Regions from separate parts of the Homo sapiens genome. Here all the other regions are linked to region 2. The links come from fine-mapping of genetic effects on gene expression. A gene starts in region 2. Each other region holds a variant in brackets. All regions are shown on one strand. Distances are between the middles of the regions.

Region 1 (4,244 bases), 490 kb before region 2:
CTATAATGGAAGGCTAATACATTATTTAAAAAGTGAGGAATATGTCTATGAACTGATATTGAGAAATTTCATAGGATGTATACATTAGATAAACAGAAGCAACAGGGAAAGGGCATCTATTGAACACTACCTTTTGTGTGAACACAAGCTCATATGTATGTCTGCATATTTACTTCTAGATATCTATCATCACTGTATGCTCATTTTTCAAGAAGACATGCAGTAAGGATAAATTAGCCACTGATAAAATTGTTTACTTACAAGAAGTGATTAAGAATCCAGAGAAAGAGATTGGGAAGGAAATTGGATTTTGAAACATGTTAATATTTTACATAAGCAAAAAATAAAACTATTTCAACAAAGGGAAGAAATCCTAAAATTCAATATAAACAGAAACGGCCTATAACTATGTATCAAGGAGATAACATATTCACTTAGATAGAAAGACTAAAATTTATCCAAATAAGTTTTTCATATGATAATTTAACTGTATAATTCCAATGGTATATATTCTAAGGACAAAAAACATTAAGGTATCTTGAGCTTTCCTTATTAGGTTTATTATTTGCAGTGGTACTAACACAGAAATTCCAACACTATTTTGTATTTATTGTAGAATTGAGAAAATAAGTTATTATATATTGATATTGTTAATATATTAGGATTTTTTTGCTGTAGAAGAAAAAATACAATTATGGAATAGGAGAAAAAGAAGAAACATATTGTGGTGCTAGAATTGGAATTGGGAGTATCTGTCTACAAAAAGGATCTAACAAAATGGCACCCTAGTAGCAATAATAATTCCTAGCTTACCAATATCACTTTTGACATATCATTTTACACTAAAAGGAACAAGAGCTCCTTGGAGAAAAGGCTGATTCCAGATCGAGAGCAGGAAGGTTATAGTGTGACCCTCAACTATCCCGTTGTGCCAGGAAATAAGAAGAACCTGGAGAACTAACAGAGACATATCCTGAGGAAACCGGCATTAAGAGTCTTTCACTGGCCAAATTTGGGACAATTTTTTGCTTCAAAATAAATACTTACAGAAATAGAATTACACACACAAAAAATCTACAAATCGATACTGATTTTAAAATAGATGAATTGGGAAGGGAAAATTTGAGTAAATGATTTTTTAAAGAAGACAGACTAATAAACGTTGAAGAAACTGTATTTATCAATTATAAAATGCTAAGTAAATCTTTACCATGAAGAAATCGTATCTTAACTAATCAAACTTAACATAAACAGTTATGGCGAAGAGTGATATCATGTACTCCCAATGTGATAAATTGGGAAAGACCAAATATTACTAACATAAAATTTCTGCCAAAAATGTTTCTGCTTACTAGGAAATTACCTAACAAGGCCAAAATATGTGTCAATCTGACCTTGATTCTTCAAAAATATCAGTTTCAAGAAAGACATAAAAAATGCTGATGTCTTCTAGATTATAGAAGATTACAGACATCACAAATAAAATGCATGATTCTTGAGTGGTCATTGAATTAAATGAAAAACAGCTTTTCCCTAAAAAATGGTGGAGTCAAGACTTTTTGTGTGTCTCAGCCAGTTGGAAATAACAAGATTGTACATGAAGATCAACTTTTGAGTTTTAATTTAAGAAGAAAGACACGAATCCACCAGAATCATGAAGATATCCCAGATCTCAGGGAGAACAACAGGGACAAAGAGCCCCTGTGATGGTATCCAGGTGATAAAAGGAGATCTCTAGGCATTGGCAGCACACTCTCACCTGGATCAGCAGCCTGAGCCACCCCACTCTTCGTGTGCATACATCGTGGTGCAGTGGGGTGCTCTCCACTACATGACCAGGAAGATATCCAGGCATTCAGAGCAACTACTTTCCTAGTTCAGCAGCCTTAGCCACTCCACCCATCCTAGACATATATCATGGTGTGGTAGAGCCCTTTCTGCTCCATGGCCAGGCAGATCTCCAGGCATGCAGAGTATCTGCTTACTTGGATAAGCAGCTGGAGCCACCCCACTCTTCCTGTGCATAGATCATTGTGCAGTGGGGTCCACTCCGCTCCATGCCCAGGCAAATCTTCAGGCATTCAAAGGACTGGCTTGCCCTACAATTCCTGTGCAGAGATCCTGGATCCAGGGTGGGGTGAGGGTCCCTCTCTTCTTCATGCCCTTGCAGATCTCCAGACATTCAGAGTACCTGCTCACCTGGATAAGCAGCCCCACCCTTCCAGTGCACAGATCATTGTGCAGTTTGGTCCAATCTGCTTCATGCCCAGGCAGATCTTTGGGTATTCAAAGGACCAGCTTGCCCCACAATTCCTGTGCAGAGATCCTGGC[G/A]CCAGGGTTGGGAGAGGGGCCTTCTCTTCTTCACGCCCTTGCAGATCTCCAGGCATTCAGAGCACCTGCTCACAAGATTCACAGCCTGAGCTGCGCTACCTTTCCTGCATAGAAACTGCGGTGCACCAGGGCCTTTTCTACTCCATGCCCAGGCAGATCTCTAGTGATTCAGAGCACCCACCTGCCTGAATGAGTAGCCTGTGCCACCTATTTTTTCTGTGCAGAGATTTTGATGCACTGTGGCCCTCTGCACTCCACCCTCAGGCAGATCTCCAGGCATCTAGAGTGCCTACCCTCCTGGAATAGCAGTTTAGGCCACCCAACTACCTGTGCAAAGAACTGAAAACTAAGTAGGTTGCCCAGCTCTATGCCTAGACATAATTCTGAGTGATTGGTAGCACACCCACTGGATTCTCTCTCAGCACTGGTGCTTGTGCTTGCCATGAGGGAATATGTAGGTGGTCCTGCCCGGTCTAACCCTTGCCATCTTGAGCCCCACTCCCTTGGGCTGAACAGGGAGCTCAGACTTCTGTGCAAACCACAGATCAGCCTGTGGCCTGAGACAACAGATAGTTCTACCTGGTAAACAAGAATCAAGTACATACCTAGCCATGTTGGCTTCAGCTGGCTATTACCCATAAATGTTATATATTGACTTGCAGGTTGAACCATACAGCCTAATATAAAACCTGCTGAAAAACCTGAATAAGGCTATAAAAGCAAAGCCAAAAAACTCTAATCAACGTTCTCTAAGGTCACACCCCCAAGGGAGGGGGTGGGGTGAAAGGTAAAGGAAAAAATATACTGAAAGAAACAAATTCTCCTCGCACAAAAATAATTACCAAAATTAGAAGGGCCAGCATATCCAGATGAAAAGGAACCAGTGCAAGAATTGTGGCACCATGTAATACCTGAAAAAAAAAAAAGGATCATACTAGGTCTCCATCAGGAAATGAATAAACTGATATATAGCTTTAAAAAAAAGCAATTGGAGATTTTGGAATAGAAAAACTCATTTAAGGAATTTCAAAATATCAGTGAAACTGTTATCAATAGAGTGGACAAAGCAGAAGAAAGTATTTCAGAGCTTGAAGGCACGTCTTTCAAACTAATTCAGTCAGACAAAAAAAAAGAATAAGAATAAAGCATTAAAAAAATGAAAAGTCTTCAAGAAATATGAGATTCTATAAAGTGACCAAGCCTATAAAGTGTTGGCAATCCTGAGAGAGGAGAAAAAACAATTTCAAAAACATATTTTAGGAAATACTTCAAGAAAATTTCCCTAATCTTGCTAGAGATGTTGACATTCAGATACAATAAATCCAAAGAACACCTGTGAGATACTGTATGAAACGAACAACAGCAAGGCATAAAGTCATCAAACTATCCAAGGTCAATGATAAAGAAAGAAATCTTAAAGGCAACTAAAGAAAAAGGTCAGAAATGTACAAAGGGAATGTTATCAGGCTAACAGCAGAGTTATCAGCAGAAATCTTACAAGTCAGGAGAGATTGAGGTCTATTTTCAGCATTCTTAAAGAAAATACATTCCAACTGAGAATTACATATCCCACTAAACTAAGCCTCATAAGCAAAGGAAAAATAAAATATTTTCCAGAGAAGCAAGCAATAAGGGAATTTATTACCATTAGACCAGCCCTCCTTAGGGAAGTTCTAAACATGTATATGAAAGAATGATACTTGCTACCATAAAACACACTTAAGTACATAGTCCGTAGACCCTATAAAGCAACCGCACAATAGAAACTACAAAGCAACCAGCTAACAACTTCACAATAGGATCAAAATGTCACATATCAATATTAACCTTGAATGTAAATGGTCTAAAGGCCCCATTTACAGGCAGAGTTTCAAATTGGATAAAAAAAAAAAAAAAAAAAAAAAAAAAGACCT
Region 2 (4,244 bases):
CCCTCACTTCTCCCAAAAAGCTGAACCCTTCAGTCGGCCCAAGCAGCTCCACACCCTGAGGTTTCCAAGACCAAAGCTGCGAGTCTCAGCAGGGAACAGCCACGTGGCCTGCCTGCGCCTCGCCTGGGCTCTTGCCTTCAGCTTGAGATATCTGCAGCCGCGAACCTTGCTCCAGCCCAGAAAGGGGCGCTTTGCTCAATTAATTGTTCCCGCCGGCGAGTCCGTACTGAGAAGCCCATGAGCGGACCTTATGTGCAGGGTACTCCAGCGCGGTGCACAAAACTCGTCGCCCCCAAACGCTGCCCCCACCCCAACACTGTGTACTGACTCCAGCTTTTTACTTTGCCATGTAAGGGATGGACCTGAAACGGTTATTTTACCTCAATTCATTTCAAAAAGGAAACAAGTATGGCATTGCAAAAGATGGGCTTCTTATCCAAGGCGACTTCCTTTCTGGTTCACCAACTTTGCTGCTTCCAGTTTGCCAGGATCTACATTAACACCCTCTTTGGGGCTCTTCGTTTTAACTTACAGACAGAAATGCTTAAAATGTTAGCGTATCCAAGCATTTGGAATTGGGGCTCACGAAGCCTAATTGTCCACTGGATGCCCTAGATAGTGGGGGCTGGGGCGGGGGGGGTCTCAGAGCGGGCAGCCCCTATGTCTAGGCGCTATCAAATTCCCACTTCACTCTCTTACAAGCTGGCCTTTCAAGGTCACAATGCGGAGCCTAATTTGGGGGTGGGGATGAAATGGCCACAGGGTCTCTCCCTTGGGTTGGCATTGCCAGCTGTTAGGGCCGCAGCAAAGGCGCTGCGCTGCCCCCCTCTGGCTCTGCTGCCTTTCCCATGGACTGGGTTTCCTTCCACCGAAGAGTGAACTTCTGCCTCTTTCGAGCACCTTCCGAGGCGTAGTCCTTTGGATGTTGGGGAGCGTCAGACTGGGTCGTTGTAGAGGGGAAAGGAGGGCCCAGAAGGGCGAGAGAGCAGGCCGGGACGCAAATCCTCAGCCCCCGCGGCGCGGCCACGTCTTCAGAAACGCCCAGGACCTCCGGGCTGGGCCGCCGCGGTTTGGCCTTTGGAACTCCAAGGGGTTCGTCTACCTGACCATTGGGTGGGCTCCGCGGTTGACACTTTTCTTGGCATGCCCCCCCACCCCGCGCCACACCACCCCCCCAGCCCCAGCAATCCCAAATCGGCCCCACGGACCTAGAGGGCTCTTGGGCGAGATGAGACATCACCCACTGTGTAGAAGCTGTTGCCATTGCTGCTGTCACAGCCACTCCGGATGGGGCTGCCACCGCGGCCAGGACAGTCTCCTCCGACCGCTTCCTGGGCTGCGCTAGGGTTCGGGGGCGCTGCCCGCACGCTCCGGCGGGGAAGGAAATCGCCCCGCGCCCGCCGGAGGAAGGCGACGGGGAGGGAAGGGGGAGGGCGGCTAGGAGGCGGGTGGAGGGGCCGGCCGCCCGGGCCAGGTCGTTTTTGAATGGTTTGGGAGGACGAATTGTTAGACCCCGAGGAAGGGAGGTGGGACGGGGGAGGGGGACTGGAAAGCGGAAACTTTCCTATAAAACTTCGAAAAGTCCCTCCTCCTCACGTCAGGCCAATGACACTGCTGCCCCCAAACTTTCCGCCTGCACGGAGGTATAAGAGCCTCCAAGTCTGCAGCTCTCGCCCAACTCCCAGACACCTCGCGGGCTCTGCAGCACCGGCACCGTTTCCAGGAGGCCTGGCGGGGTGTGCGTCCAGCCGTTGGGCGCTTTCTTTTTGGACCTCGGGGCCATCCACACCGTCCCCTCCCCCTCCCGCCTCCCTCCCCGCCTCCCCCGCGCGCCCTCCCCGCGGAGGTCCCTCCCGTCCGTCCTCCTGCTCTCTCCTCCGCGGGCCGCATCGCCCGGGCCGGCGCCGCGCGCGGGGGAAGCTGGCGGGCTGAGGCGCCCCGCTCTTCTCCTCTGCCCCGGGCCCGCGAGGCCACGCGTCGCCGCTCGAGAGATGATGCAGGACGTGTCCAGCTCGCCAGTCTCGCCGGCCGACGACAGCCTGAGCAACAGCGAGGAAGAGCCAGACCGGCAGCAGCCGCCGAGCGGCAAGCGCGGGGGACGCAAGCGGCGCAGCAGCAGGCGCAGCGCGGGCGGCGGCGCGGGGCCCGGCGGAGCCGCGGGTGGGGGCGTCGGAGGCGGCGACGAGCCGGGCAGCCCGGCCCAGGGCAAGCGCGGCAAGAAGTCTGCGGGCTGTGGCGGCGGCGGCGGCGCGGGCGGCGGCGGCGGCAGCAGCAGCGGCGGCGGGAGTCCGCAGTCTTACGAGGAGCTGCAGACGCAGCGGGTCATGGCCAACGTGCGGGAGCGCCAGCGCACCCAGTCGCTGAACGAGGCGTTCGCCGCGCTGCGGAAGATCATCCCCACGCTGCCCTCGGACAAGCTGAGCAAGATTCAGACCCTCAAGCTGGCGGCCAGGTACATCGACTTCCTCTACCAGGTCCTCCAGAGCGACGAGCTGGACTCCAAGATGGCAAGCTGCAGCTATGTGGCTCACGAGCGGCTCAGCTACGCCTTCTCGGTCTGGAGGATGGAGGGGGCCTGGTCCATGTCCGCGTCCCACTAGCAGGCGGAGCCCCCCACCCCCTCAGCAGGGCCGGAGACCTAGGTAAGGACCGCGCCGCTGCACCCCTTCGCCTCTCAGGTGGCAGACGGCAGGCCGGCCAGGCCGCGGTTCCCAGTCCACCTCGATTTCCTCCCCTCTCCCACTCTCCGCTCAGCCTTCCCACCTCACTTGGCACCGTTGCCTCGCGCCCCCAGCGTCCCCGGAAGGCCGGTCTGACCCCGCTAGGGAGAGCAGTCTCCAGGGGGATGCGCCCTGGTGAGGGGTGTGTGTGCGCGTGAGTGTGCGTGACAGGAGGGGAGACAGAGACACCCAGGGTCACGGGTAAGGACCGTTTTGTCAGCGCCACCCTTTCTTTCGGCTTTCAATTTTTGTTCTCCTTAAAACAAATGTTTTAAAACAAATTCCACCTCCTCCTCCTTTCCACCCACCCACTTCCTCTTGCCCTTGGGCTGAAATCCTTCCAGGTTGTTCAGCTTAATTTCTCAGTGGTGGTGATAAGAACAGTGCTCACTAGTCTTAGAAAACAGCCGCAGAGACCTAAACAATAACCGACTCCCCCCCCCCCCTCTGGGTTTTTGCAGATGTCATTGTTTCCAGAGAAGGAGAAAATGGACAGTCTAGAGACTCTGGAGCTGGATAACTAAAAATAAAAATATATGCCAAAGATTTTCTTGGAAATTAGAAGAGCAAAATCCAAATTCAAAGAAACAGGGCGTGGGGCGCACTTTTAAAAGAGAAAGCGAGACAGGCCCGTGGACAGTGATTCCCAGACGGGCAGCGGCACCATCCTCACACCTCTGCATTCTGATAGAAGTCTGAACAGTTGTTTGTGTTTTTTTTTTTTTTTTTTTTGACGAAGAATGTTTTTATTTTTATTTTTTTCATGCATGCATTCTCAAGAGGTCGTGCCAATCAGCCACTGAAAGGAAAGGCATCACTATGGACTTTCTCTATTTTAAAATGGTAACAATCAGAGGAACTATAAGAACACCTTTAGAAATAAAAATACTGGGATCAAACTGGCCTGCAAAACCATAGTCAGTTAATTCTTTTTTTCATCCTTCCTCTGAGGGGAAAAACAAAAAAAAACTTAAAATACAAAAAACAACATTCTATTTATTTATTGAGGACCCATGGTAAAATGCAAATAGATCCGGTGTCTAAATGCATTCATATTTTTATGATTGTTTTGTAAATATCTTTGTATATTTTTCTGCAATAAATAAATATAAAAAATTTAGAGAACCTTAGAGTTTGGTCTATATTTTTAAAACTAAAGATTAAGTTGGTGGTAAATACCTGCTTGTTTAATTCTAGAGGCACCCAGGAGGGAGGGGGCACTAATATAAACAAAGCAATGAAAAACTCAAATAAAGCAGCTACTGACAGGCACAAGCATGTTATTTTAAAAGACAGCTTTATTATTATTCCAGTTTGGTATTCAGAGGGCTTAGTAGCATCTCTTCATCTCTTACTGTCTCCAAACAGCAAAAACTTAACAAATTTGCTATTCACCTCCTTTTTATTTTGAGGTGATAGTTGTTAAAACAGTTAAATGCAAATAAGGAGTATAAAACCTGCACTATTCTCTTATTATGTACTTTTTGTCATGCTCTTCACTCTTTGTGAAGATTCCTAAATAAC
Region 3 (4,244 bases), 260 kb after region 2:
ACTTTCCTTGCCTAAGATGTGTCACGTAGCCAGTAACATTTCTGACTAATTCTGAGATATTGCCCAATGTGTCTCTGAGCTAAGAGTTGAGAGAGAAATTTTTCTCAACAGTATCTCTTCCTGACTTTGGGACATTGTCTGTGAGAATAGTATTAGTGTATTTATATTATTATATTTGGAACGCCTCTGAATAGAGAATGATGCCACCTCCCTAGGCAAAATCCTATACGCAAGCATAGGGAGCTGGGCAAAATGGTAAGATTGCTAGTTTATCAAAACAGATAAACTGATTCTTATCTAATTACCATATATAAAACAATGACAACAGAATTAACAGATTTTGCTTTCGTTAAACTCTGTACTGAAATCTAGTCTAGAAAGAAACAACAAAATGTTGAAACATGCTTAGTTTGGAGTTGGTAGAAGTCATTAAGAGTTAATATTAAAATTGTACTGAAGTAAACACTCTTTTGCTGAGAAATGTAGAATGTAATTATATATGTCCCTTCCCAGTCATTATTGTATAAAAGCATAGAAATACCGTGAATTTTAATATGCCAAAAATGTGTCTTTAAGTTTGCAACAGTGGTTCTCAAGAAATATTTTATTATGATTTCAAATGTGAGTCCAGTAACATAAAGGGGCTGTTATGTATTTGGTTTCATAAGCATTACTAAATCAGTCTTTCCATATTTGTAAGGACTAGAGCTGGAAAGGATCAGTAGTCCCGACTTTGCTCTGCTACTATCCAATTAACAAAAGACCACATCCTAGAGAACTGAGGCTGAGCTACAAGGGTGTGGAGAGCGGGCAAGGGTCTTTGCCAGCATAATGCACTAGAACTACTGATTCTTCTTGAACCCCTTCAAAATTGCCTGTGATTGCTCAATAAAATACACCCTTCCTTATAGTTCCAGTGGGTGCTGACAAGGAGGTCAGCTCCATAGCAACTTTTAGTTTTATCTTATGCCTACCTTATTACTCCTTCCTCTTTCCTTCCTTCCTTTCTTCCGTCTTCCTTTTTTTCTTTCCTTTATTTCCTTCTAATTTTATCCTCTTTTAGCCCAATTTATTCTTAAAGGACAGGAAAAGAGTTTAAGACATTGAGAAAAATTTGACACAAGTCAGAACAAAGTATTTAACTTTGTTTCCTTATATTAAGACCAACTGGATAACCAAGGAAGAAAGTATATTTAAAGAATAACATAATCCTCATGGTTTAGGCAAGAGAGGCAGAACAAGCCCCTGCAACATGTATCTTTCCAAATCTTTGTTTATTTTCATTTCTATAGCAACCTGGTGGTTGTAAAACATTGCCATAATGAATAGAAAATAGAACACAAATGACAGTAAAATGTTCTTAAAACTTACATAGCAGAGAATTATTTAGAAAATTTGGAAAGGCTGATTTTTTTTTCTCAGTTGGGCACATAGCAGGAAAAATGTCTACCCAAGTCATTAGTAAATTTCCCCTCCAGAGGGACAATAAGATGCTGGTGACACGTGCACTTTGGAAACTTAATTATGTGCCTATTTTTTGTTATTACTTTCTTTATCCAAAAAATCCCTAAAGAGATTATACTACCATCAAATCAGTCATAGGGATTTCTCTCCTTTCGGTGGGGTGCAGTGTGTAGCTTAGTACACATATTGCATTTCCCATTACCCTATGAGCAGCATATTCTTTTTGCAAAGTTTCAAATGAGCCTCTCTTTAGTCTTTGCACAAGTGATTGCATTCCATAAAATATTATTGCATAAAGCCAAAGGACTTTGGCTAAAAATTAAATTCAGTATTCCAATAAAATCATATATATTTCTCTCTCTCTCATTCTCTCACATATATATATATATATATATATATATATATATATATATATATATATATGAGAGCGTTAGCCTTTATATTTCTTCTCAAGAGGAGAGAAAAAGAAGCTTTGTAGGCATAAAAATAAGGAAAAAGAAAGGTCAAACATTACTGTAAGTAAATGTTCTGTGGTTTATAGAATTCACAAAACAAATTACAGCATGACATCCTTTTCAAGGAACTGTTTGTGTCTTTGGAAAAAGTGTGTATTATTTTTGGTTAACTCTACCTTTTGATGTGGCCTTTCTGAGGAAGGCAGCATCATCAAGTTTTTTTTTTTTTTAATTGCGTA[G/A]CAATGTGAGATGAACAAGACAAAAGGCAAGCTCATTTAGTAACACATTTTACTTGTTCCCTGAGGCATAGCCAGAAAGAGACTGAGAAGAAAGAAAGAACTTGGGGCCTGAATAGAGTTCTGAAGTGCAGAGTCAGGCTGTCTTCTCAATCAGGAGATCAGCCCAAGATCTAGGAGTGTTACATGTATTCATAGCTAAAATAACAGGAGAGTAGGATTAATTCCAAAACTAAAAAAATAGTTTATGTTGGAGGCAAGGAAACTCTTTTCTTCTAGCAACAACAACAAAATCATCAACCATTTTGACAATGTACTAGGTGCCAGGCATGAAGTTAAGAAGTTTATACATTCCTTCTAATGTTGCAATGATCACAATATACTTGAAATTATGTACTTTGATCCCAATTATAGACAGTAAGACTAAGACTCAATGAAGGTAAGATAATCAGTCAAGTTGTTTCAGCAAATAACTGACTGACTTGGGATTCAAACTCATATCTGTCTGAATCCAAAGATCACGTTCTCGGAAGCTTGACAATTTCACTGCCTTTTAACTGCATTTTTGGATGAAAAAATAGTGTTTCTAAGTGCTCTGATTCAATGAGGCAATGAAGGCATATCATGTGTATTGAAGCAATCACTTCAGTGTTTCTGTGAGTTAGAAGGGAAGTAGGTATGCCACTCAAACTTCACAGGAGATCAGGACATGGTAAAAATGAGACACTGCTGTCAATATTTATTCAGCAGCAACTTATTTCCAGGTACAATTCCAACTGCAATGTTCACTCCACAAAGTACGAAATTTCCATGGTGACATGATAGAGTAGTTTTATTATTTAAGATAAAAATATACTCTGACTAGTTAGACTATGGGTTGTCACTTGGATTAGCATGAAAGCAATTTCTGAGTAAAGTACATTCAAACATTCTAGATAGGAAATGTTAACATAAGCTGATTTGGTTACTTTGGTGTCCCCACCCAAATCTCATATTGAATTGTAGTTCCCATAATCCCCACATGTCATGGGAGGGACTAGGTGGAGATAATTGAATCATGGGGGTGATTTCCCCTATCCTGTTCCTGTGATATTGAGTTCTCATGAGAGCTGACGGTTTTATAAGGGGCTTCCCCCTTTGCTGGGCACTCATTCTCTCTCCTGCTGCCTCGTGAAGAGGTGCCTCCCACCATGATTGTAAGTTTCCTGAGGCTTGCCTAGCCATGCAGAACATGCAGCCACGTGAGTCAATTAAACCTCTTTCCTTTATAAACTACCCAGTCTAGGGTATTTCTTCACAGCAGCCTAAGAATTGAGTAATACATTGATTATCCATTTTTCCAAATATGCAACCATGTGGATCCATATGCACAGATAGCTAGCTTTCTCACTGATTATTTTCATTTTTTGAAAAGGGAATGTTATGGTGGTATTTCGACACTGCTGTCATGATACTGTGACATGCTAAATGAACCACTAAACAGCCGGCAGAATCCAAGATTTCAATGGATAAACATTTGAAAACTAATTTTCTTTTGTGCATGTGTATTTGTTTTAGACCAAATAATACTCCACAGTTATTAGTACATCAGTACTGTACCCTCATATTTAAAAAATTAGCTTGTTTTTAAAAATCTTTTCAAGTAGCAGATATTAGATAAATATTTTCAAATTCCCATTGAAAATGGGAATGTCACATTCCCATTTGAAAACAAAATAGCTGAACCCAACTTTGTCAAGTTTGTCTTTTCATAGATTTTTTCATTTATTAATTTATTCCTGGAACATTCATTGAACATCTACAGTGAATCTCAATGCCAAGGTGCCAAGTGCTAGATTTCATAATGTCAGGACAGATTCCTATGATTCCTATACTTAACAAGTTCAGATGGCATGGATGAAGCAACTCTGTAAACAAATTTCTTCCAGTTCAAAGGGATGCGTTCATTAATACAGATATTGATTTTTTTCTCCCAGTTCAAAACAATAATTACTCTAGAAACTACAGCTATAAATGTGGACATAGAAAATGAACTTATTAATTATTCTGGAGAACAGAGACAAAACTTTATAGATAAAATGATATTTTA

Which allele goes with the higher level. Alleles are on the strand shown, and positions count from the first base shown. SD is a standard deviation of normalised expression in the study named. Not every link is listed here.
With allele G in place of A in region 1, the expression in tibial nerve of the gene that starts at base 1,677 in region 2 is lower (small effect, 0.32 SD a copy in GTEx).

What was found. PIP is the estimated chance that this variant, and not a neighbour inherited with it, causes the effect. A credible set is the group of variants that fine-mapping cannot tell apart.
Region 1: its variant is the best candidate, but not a certain one, in a credible set for the expression of TWIST1 in tibial nerve (GTEx, PIP 0.64).
Region 3: its variant is the best candidate, but not a certain one, in a credible set for the expression of TWIST1 in tibial nerve (GTEx, PIP 0.76).

What each region holds. Positions count from the first base shown.
Region 1 is chr7:19,600,739-19,604,982 of GRCh38, reverse strand. All of the region lies in intron 3 of LOC105375180 (a long non-coding RNA gene), which reads right to left. Among named protein-coding and RNA genes, the nearest start is that of MIR3146, 100 kb to the left of the region's middle. The variant G/A (reference allele first, on the strand shown) is at 2,332.
Region 2 is chr7:19,115,069-19,119,312 of GRCh38, reverse strand. TWIST1 (twist family bHLH transcription factor 1) reads left to right here and starts at 1,677. Exons shown (of 2, transcript NM_000474.4): 1 at 1,677-2,642; 2 at 3,182-3,845. The coding sequence starts at 1,992. The coding sequence ends at 2,600. RefSeq lists enhancers at 1-530, 1,604-2,387, 2,411-2,670.
Region 3 is chr7:18,857,455-18,861,698 of GRCh38, reverse strand. The region is part of intron 21 of HDAC9 (histone deacetylase 9); the gene reads right to left. Among named protein-coding and RNA genes, the nearest start is that of HDAC9-AS1, 42 kb to the left of the region's middle. The variant G/A (reference allele first, on the strand shown) is at 2,159.